Linked DNA regions of Homo sapiens: regions 1 and 3 are each linked to region 2. The links come from fine-mapping of genetic effects on gene expression. A gene starts in region 2. Each other region holds a variant in brackets. All regions are shown on one strand. Distances are from middle to middle.

Region 1 (2,709 bases), 110 kb before region 2:
AGGGCAGGGGTGCCGCTGGCAGGAGGGAAGACGCTGATTGGCATTTCCCTGGGCTGTGGGGATGGGGCCTGGGAGGAACACTAATGAATGAAACTGAAAAGAAAGCAAATTGCAGTCGTGACACTTAGTTCCCACAGCCTGTTGCTGTTCACACAGAGGAGCGAGGAGAGCTGGGCCTCTCCAGGGGAGTCCAGGACAAAGCTGGGGCTGGGAGGTGTGCACCTCCCTGCTGGACATGGTGAGGGTGGCATGAGGTGAGGGCTGGGGAGTCCACCCGGCTTTCCTGCCATGGCAGCAGAGAGCACCCAGCCTTTGGAGGCTGCATCGTGGCATCACTTACTAATTCTAGCCGTGGGAGAGCCTTTCTGGGCCTCAGTTTCTTCATCTATAAAACAGGAAAGCCAGCCGGGTGCAGTGGCTCATGCCTGCAACCCCTGCACTTTGGGAGGCCAAGGTAGGAGGATCACGTGAACTCAGGAGATTGCGACCAACCTGGTCACTTGGTGAAACCCTGTTTTTACTGAAAATACGAAAATTAGCTGGGCATGGTGGCAGGTGCCTGTAATCCCAGCTACTCGGGAGGCTGATGCATGAGAATTGCTTGAACCTGGGAAGTGGAGGTTGCAGTGAGTCGAGATTCAGCCACTGCACTCCAGGCGAGGTCACAGAGCAAGACTCTGTTGCCAAAATAAATACATAAAAATAAAAATAAAACGACAAAACCCCTGCGGCTCTACTGAAAATACATCTGGAGCACCTAGCACCTAGTAGATGCTCAGTAAATGAAACCTGATCTTAATCTTTCAGTTCACTGGAAGGCTCTAACCTTATGGCCAAGAAATGGGATTGTCTCAACCTGAGACCCACTTTAACCAGAAAAATCAGTAAAATATTACTTATTCCCCAGAGCACGCCTTTGGGTCTCAACTTCCATTCTCTCTCTGGCACTTTTAGCAGAAGGCAAGACGAGTCATACAGGAACAGGACCGCAAGAGTGTCCCAGCACCGCAGGCAGATTCTTTGTGGCCGCTGGGGGCCCACGCACTCTAAGGGCCCTCTGAAGTTACACAGCAACCCATTCAACAGAACAGGTAGCTGAGGCCCAGACAGGGTGTCCTGTTCCCTCAGGCAGTTGCCAAGATGTGTTTGTGATGAAGAACATCCTTGTGGGGCAAAGCACCTTAGGCCAGAGGTGGGTTCCATCCTTTGGCCAGTGAGGGAGCTCCCTGAATCTCACCACCTCAAGCCTATTGGGAAAACTCTCATTTTCCTGAATGCCCAAGGGAGAGAAGATAGCAGACACAACTGACCACATGGGAGGTGCACAAGACGTGTTTGTTGAATAAATAAAGGAGTGAGAGAAAGAATGAGGAGCCAATGGGTGGGTTCCAGAGTGAGGGAATGAATGACTACTCAGGAAAGGCACAGGGTTCCACACCCAAGGCAGCGGCAAAGGTGACTCGCTCAGGGGTGTCAGCCGGGGGCGTGGGGAAGGCAGTGCTGATGAAAAGGTGGGCCTGGAGGGGGAGACCCTGGA[T/C]GGGGCAGGCAGCAGGTGCCCCTCTCCACTAAGTTGCTGTGCCTGGAGACCCTGCACCTGGAAAGCGATGCCATAGAGGGCCTGGGCTTTGGAGGCTGGCAGAATTGGCTTGGACTCCTCTCATCCATGTGCTCTTGTGCCACCCTAGCTCCCAGTGCCTCAGTTTTCTGGCTTTTAAAAATGGGAAGACTGGCCGGGTGCGGCGGCTCACGCCTGTAATCCCAGCACTTTGGGAGGCCGAGGTGGGTGGATCACCTGAGGTGGGGAGTTCGAGACCAGCCTGGCCAACAAGGCGAAACCCTGTCTCTACTAAAAATACAAAAATTAGCTGAGCGTGGTGGCAGGTGCCTGTAATCCTAGCTACTCAGGAGGCTGAGGCAGGAGAATTGCTTGAACTCAGAAGGTGGAGGTTGCAGTGAGCCAAGATCGTGCCACTGCACACCAGCCTGGGCAACAAGAGTGAAACTCCGTCTCAGAAAAAAAAAAAAAGGAAGACTAATCCTCACCCCCTAGGACTGTGGTGGCATTGACTGAGAGTGGCTTGGTCCCTTGCCACTGCCACGCTCTTGTATCTCCCAACCAGGCCTCAAGGCTCAGAGACAACCTAGGGTGGGATCTTCCCCGTCGGGGATGAGGGAGCAGGGTCACTGAGCCAGGGAGGGCCACCTCGGCCAGTGCATGCACCACTGCTCTGGGCAGCAGCCACAGCTCCAGAAACAAAAACAAGGACAATTCAATACCTGGGCCCCAGTGAGTCTGAGGGCAGTGCAGGAAGTGGCATTCATCAGACGTCATCCGATAATGCCCCTCTGTTCCCACCAGCAACTTCCTCCCAGGGGTCCCGTCAGCTTCTTGGCCTTCCACTGTGACTAGAATGAAGTCAGCTTGTCTACCTTTAAAAGGGGTGCGTGTGTGTTTCCCTTACATTTTCATTATGGTTCTTAATTCCTTATAATATGAGAAGGATGTGTTCCAGCCGCACTGGAGCGGGAACTAAATGCCTGTTTTTCCACCAGCACGAACGCCTTCCCAGTGCATCATTACTCCCCTCCCCATTACTCTCCCATAGCGTGCAATGGAGAAGCACCATACACACCGCCGTGGGAGGCGAGATTGTGGGCTTTGGAGTAAACACTCCTGCGGTCCAATCCCAGCTCTGTGGCCCTGGCTGG
Region 2 (2,752 bases):
GGAGACTTGCTGAGGTCAGCCAGCCGAGCGGCGACAGGGAGTTCTGAACCCAGAGCCTTTGCCCCTAACTTCTAGAATATACCGAGCTGTTCAGTAGAAAGGGCAGAGCCAGGATTCTAATCCAGCTCCTCCCTGCATTAAAGCCCTGCTCTTTTCCCAGCCAGACACCAAGTGTGGCTGCCTCAGGCCAGGACATCCCCTGGGGCTCCACACCTCAAGGGAACCTCTGGTGGAGATCTCTTCCCCCGCAGGCTTCCAGAATGCCCCATGCAACCTAGACCATGAGGCAGCTGGACCCCACAAAGGACCCATTGTGGTGACTGCAGAAAGCCAAGGCCAGACCCCGGTGGCCCTTCTGCAGAGTCCTGCCCAAGGCGCCTCCTCCCCTTCCCATGGTGCCCCCATACCCAGCGGACAGGGCTGGGGCTGAGGGAGGGAGGGGCGGGGGCAGGCCTCCCGATCTGCCCGGCCTGGGGGAGCCTCAGGCTATAGAAACTTAAAACCCTCCAGCTGCCGGCAGGCTGCATGGGGCCCCAGGCCCCTCCGGACTCATTCCAGGTGCCCTGCCCCACCTGTCAGCTGAGGTGGGGTCCACCAAGGAGGCTCAGTAGAGGGAGGAGAGGGATGCTGGGGTGTTATGGGCTGTTCCCATCTGGGAGGAGGGAGGAAATGTTTCCTAGTGTGGGGGAGGGGAATGCAAGGTATCCGGGCAGGCTGGGGAGGGGGCTCGGCGGAGGGAAGGTGGGTGGATTTGTCTCCCGCTGCACGAGGGGGCCTCCGCGGCTCTGGCTGGCTTCGTGTGCGGCAGGGGGGGGGCTCGCCTGGGGTCCCTAGGGGCCTGCGGAGGCATGCACAGGGCGGGGAGCCGCTTTTGCATGCAGGGCGGGAGGGGTCCGCGGCGTGCCGGGGCGCTCCCTCTGCCCGCTGAGGGAACTCCCGACTGGCCGGGGTCGCCACACTCACCTCCTGAAGTCAAAGGGCATCGTGCCGCCGCCGGGGGTGGGAGCGCTGCAGGCCAGGCGGGCCGCGGCGCCGCGTGGGTCCGAGCCCGCTGCCAACGCCTCCTCCGGCCGCCCCGCCCCCGCCGGCCGCCCCCCTGACACTCGCCACTCGCCACTCGCCACTCGCCTCCCGCTGCCGGGAAGTGACGCTCCGCGCAGCCCATTGGGCGCCGCCCGCCCGGCCGCCCCTTCCGCCACCCGGTTAAAGGGGCCCGCGGGCAGGCAGGGAAGGGGCGGAGAGTCGAGGCTGTCGGAAGGGAAGGGAGTCCCCCAAAGACTCCAGTACTCATTCCTTCAAGCCTCCCACTTAGATTTCCTTCTCCATCTCTTTGGATGCCCTCGGACAAATTCTCTGCTTCTCCGAGCCCAGTTTTTTGCATTTGTAAACAGTTTCACTGAACTGTGATTGAGTTGGGGGCGGGGGGCGGGGTGATACAGACTTTGGCCGTGCACAGCGTCTAGCTCTGAGTGAGGGCCTAATACTGTGGGGGAAGGGAAGAGGTCGGCCATCCTAGGCTGTTAAGGTGGACTCACCTCTGCCCCTGCCGTGTCTCTCTGGGAAAGCCACTGGGCTTCTCAGAGCGCCCCCCCCCCGCCCCGCCCCTTTTGCATATCTGCACAAAGAGGACGATGACACCTACTTGAGGGGGTTTTCCTGGGGATCAGCTGAGAAACAGGAGACTGGCTTAGCACAGTGCCAGGCACCTGAAACTATTGAGGCTGGCAGTGGCTGTCCCTGCTTCCATCTGCCCCTGTCGTTCACTCCAGTGGGCATTCACAGAGCATCTGCTCTGAACCAGGTCCATCGAGAACATGCAGGGTTGTGGCAGAGGCAGATGGGACCTGCACTGTGACTTGGCCAACGTGGACTGTGCCGATTGTCTCCTTCTTAGAGCCTCAGTTTCCTCCTCAGGAATACAGAGCAGCTGCCTCCGTGACTGCTGGATTAGAGGAGATGGTAGTTGAGGTCACACAAGACCTGAGTAGGGGAAACTCACTCTGAACTTCCCCGAGGTTCTGTCACTGGCCCTTTCTCCAAGGTTGTGGTGGGACAGGGCTTCAAAAAACCCAGGGGAGAATGGTGAGGGCTCGGGTTCCAAAAGCAGAGTCAATGGACAGTTTCCCCCTGTGTAAATAGAGGGGAACAGCAGTGCTGGTTCCTCCGGGAGGATTCAGAAGGGACAACACTAGCACGGGGTCTGGGGTAGGGTGACGTGGTGAACCAAAGCCTTCCCCTAGAGCATATGCCGGGACCTGACCTCTGCGTTCCCTTTTCATTCATTCACTCATTCATTCATTCATTCATTCAGTGTCAGTGGTCTGACACTGTTGGGGGAGAAAAGGAAATCTCAGCCTGAACTGGAAACCTAGGGACAGCAGGGAGAGTTAAGGGATCTTGAGCAGCCACTGCTTCCAAACAGCCATTCGTTGGCCCTGTGTGGGAGGAAACATGCAATGATGGATCTTTGACCTCGAATCCTCCCTCCTCAAACTGTGGTCCACAGACCAGCCACATGGCCATCACAGGACAGACTCTTGTCCCCAGGCCAGACCTACTGAATCAAGTGTGCATTTGGGATGATATCCAAGGTCAGCAAATGCCTGGCACAGAGTAAATGCAAGACAGGGTTGACTATCATTGCTCTTTTCGAGTGGGGATAGAGCTCCCAACTTTTGGCTGGGCATGTGGGTGCTCACAGTGAAAGTTGCATTTCCCCAGCTTCCTTTGTAGCTAGATGTGGCATTGAGAA
Region 3 (2,752 bases), 26 kb before region 2:
GGCAACTGAGGTTCATTCATTCAGCCAACGAGTAGTCAGCATCCACAAGTGCCAGGCTCCATTGATGGCACTGGGGCAACAGGCATGAACAAGACAGGCAAAGCCTGCGCCTCTGAGGAACCGAGGTTCCCATGGAGGGGACAGATAATAAACAAGCCAAAGGGAGATGGGACTGTTCCAGAGGGTGGGAGGAGCTATGAAAGAGAACACGTGGGTCTGACAGAGCCGGACAGAGGGCACTGCAGGCTGGGTGAGGTCAGGGCAGAGACCCGAGGGAAGGGAGGGAGCCACTACGCCAAGTGCCTGGGAAGAGCATTCTGAGCAGAGGGAATGGCCAGTGCTTGGCCAAGACTCTGAGGTGGGTGTGTGGCTGGCCTGTGTCAGCAGCAGCGGTGGCCACTGCGGCTGGCACGCAGGGAGGGGCAGGTGGCATGGGACGAGGTCAGCGAGGCGGATGGAGGACACATCCCACAGGCCCTGCAGGCTGGGGCAGGACTCAGCTTGTTTTCGGCGGTGGATTTGAAGCAGAGCGCAGAGTGCCCAGGAGGGTGGATGAGTTTCACCCAGAGTGACCCCAGGCAGTCAGTGCCAGGGCCGGTCTCCAGCCGAGGCTGGCTCAGCCTACATCCGCTCTCGCCGGCCCTTCCTCCCCACACAGTCCCAGCCTAGGTTCTCAGGCAGAGCTCCAAACACTGTGGAACTCTGGCTATGGAATATGTTTTTGTGCTCACAAAGAAACACAGGCGTGGCTAACACCCTGGACTCCTTCCTCACACAAGATCATTCAGAAGCCCCACCATGGATCTGCAGCTCCAAAAGGACTCAAGCACCAGTCCCTCTCCTTGTCCTGACCCCAGGACCCATGCTTGGCCCCAGCCCAAGGGTGGCTTCCTCCCAGACACCTGCTGGCCCAGATTCTGCAGCAAAGCCTCAGAGAAGTCTGTTTCTTTCACGGTCACAGCTCTGAGGCTTGCACACACCGCTCCCATCCCTGCATCCAAAGAGCTCCCGTGCATGCAGTGAGGTGCAGTGGTGAGGGGGGCAGATGCAGGAGCCAGGAGGCCTGGGTTCAAACCCCAGCTCTGCCCTGGCTCAGGCAACGCTGGGCAGGTTAAATAACTTCTCTGTGCCTTGGCTTCCCAATGTGTAAGTTGTTCCTAATGACTGGTTGTGGGGATGAAGCATGTTAACAGATGTGAGGGGGCAGAATGGTGCAGGCATAAAGAGAACCCTATTCAGGGCTGGCTATGATCATCACCATCACCAAAGTCCTTCAAGGTTGCCATACCTCTCCACGCCCTCCTGCCCTCCTCTGCTAGTTCCCCGTCAGGGAACTGATGAGCCCACTTGAGCGCACTGCCTCACACACCTGAGCTACCTGAGGCTGGAGACATGT[CT/T]TGTTCACCTCTGTCCCTGCCCCTCCCTGGCACTGAATCAATGCTGTTCGGTGAAAGAATGAATAAGAAATGAACAAACATATAGGAGCATGGGATGGTTAAATATTTCTTCAAAGGTAAGATTAAAAGCTTGAAATTACTCAGGACAAGTACTTTCTACAGAAGCACCTCTGGCAGAGCTGAATAATTAAGAAAAGGCCTGTAGGCAAAGCACAGCTTAAAGGCAAGAAACAGTTGGAAAAATAGAACAGAGCTAACCCAGCCGACAAACAATCCAGAACCCCAAAGTACTGACTGTGGAGTTTGGAGTTAGAGAAACCGGGCTTCCAAATCCTGAAGCCACCACCTATGGGCCATGCTGTGGTCTTGCCAAGGCCACTGTGTACAGCTGGGCAGGCTGTCCCCTGTCCAAGGGCACCTGCGGAGGATAGCAGCAAGGGCTGCAATCCAGCCCAGGCCCAGCACATGAGGTGTGAGGGCTACGGAGGGCTCCAGGGGCCCCTTTAAGGTGATTCCCTCAGAGGTGGCAAAGAAGTGACCAGCAGCACCAGGCACCTGCGGCAGCTCTCTGAGCCCCAGTTTCATCCTGCTAAGTGGAGCCAATGAGAGCAGCCACACTTCAAAGGCTTGGGACGGCACTGTGACCTTCAGGACATTTTTTTTTCCCACCCTTCAGTCTGGAAGCAAACAGAAATGGGGGAAAGCTAATTCCAGGATGGAATATGGCCTTTTCCGTCAGCTGGGAAGGGTGATAAGGAGGCGGCCATGGGAGTTGGGGGTGGGTGGGACATGCCCCATTCACACGGAGCTCAAAGGTTCTGGCCCTAGTGGAATGTGGCTGGGTGTGGGGCTGGGCCTAGAAGCAAAGTTCCTGAATGACCAGCTGGCCAGGCCGGGGCCTGGTCCCCTCTTGGGAACCAGCACGGCCAAGAGCAGTGTCTCATCAAAACAGGAAAAATCATAGAGGAAAAATGTGCACGTAAGGGGACTGGCATGCACAGGGAACGACATGACCCAAGCACCAGGAGGAGGGAAGGGGCTGGGGCAGGTGCACAGGGGCATTTAGGGGAGCAGAGCCCTCCCCGGTAAGGGCGCCGATGACGACCCAGACCTGGGAGATCCCAGGAAGCTATGAAGGTAAGTCTGGGCTAAGAAAGCCTCAAAATCACGTCCTCAGCACAGCTCCCCCAGCCACAGGCCTTGTAGCTTTTGACCACACAGACCTTTTGACCTGGTGTGACTGTCCAAAGTACTTCAAACAGTAATCTCCCCCGTGTTACCCACAGGGCAGGGAAGCATGGACTTTGGCCCCAAACATCTGGCTGGCAGGGGCCTTGGAATCTTGGGCAGGGCCC

Direction of the effects. Alleles are on the strand shown, and positions count from the first base shown. SD is a standard deviation of normalised expression in the study named. Not every link is listed here.
In carriers of allele C in region 1, the expression in naive CD4 T cells of the gene that starts at base 1,146 in region 2 tends to be higher than with T alone (large effect, 0.82 SD a copy in Schmiedel 2018).

What was found. PIP is the estimated chance that this variant, and not a neighbour inherited with it, causes the effect.
Region 1: its variant is the best candidate, but not a certain one, in a credible set for the expression of ERGIC1 in naive CD4 T cells (Schmiedel 2018, PIP 0.52).
Region 3: its variant is the best candidate, but not a certain one, in a credible set for the expression of ERGIC1 in esophagus mucosa (GTEx, PIP 0.55).

What each region holds. Positions count from the first base shown.
Region 1 is chr5:172,943,678-172,946,386 of GRCh38, reverse strand. The region is part of intron 9 of ERGIC1 (endoplasmic reticulum-golgi intermediate compartment 1); the gene reads right to left. Among named protein-coding and RNA genes, the nearest start is that of RPL26L1-AS1, 14 kb to the left of the region's middle. The variant T/C (reference allele first, on the strand shown) is at 1,538.
Region 2 is chr5:172,832,645-172,835,396 of GRCh38, reverse strand. ERGIC1 (endoplasmic reticulum-golgi intermediate compartment 1) reads right to left here and starts at 1,146. Exons shown (of 10, transcript NM_001031711.3): 1 at 964-1,146. The coding sequence starts at 983. RefSeq lists an enhancer at 1-400 and silencers at 384-463, 474-523, 894-1,293.
Region 3 is chr5:172,858,799-172,861,550 of GRCh38, reverse strand. All of the region lies in intron 1 of ERGIC1 (endoplasmic reticulum-golgi intermediate compartment 1), which reads right to left. Among named protein-coding and RNA genes, the nearest start is that of ERGIC1, 26 kb to the right of the region's middle. RefSeq lists an enhancer at 1,383-2,383. The variant CT/T (reference allele first, on the strand shown) is at 1,397.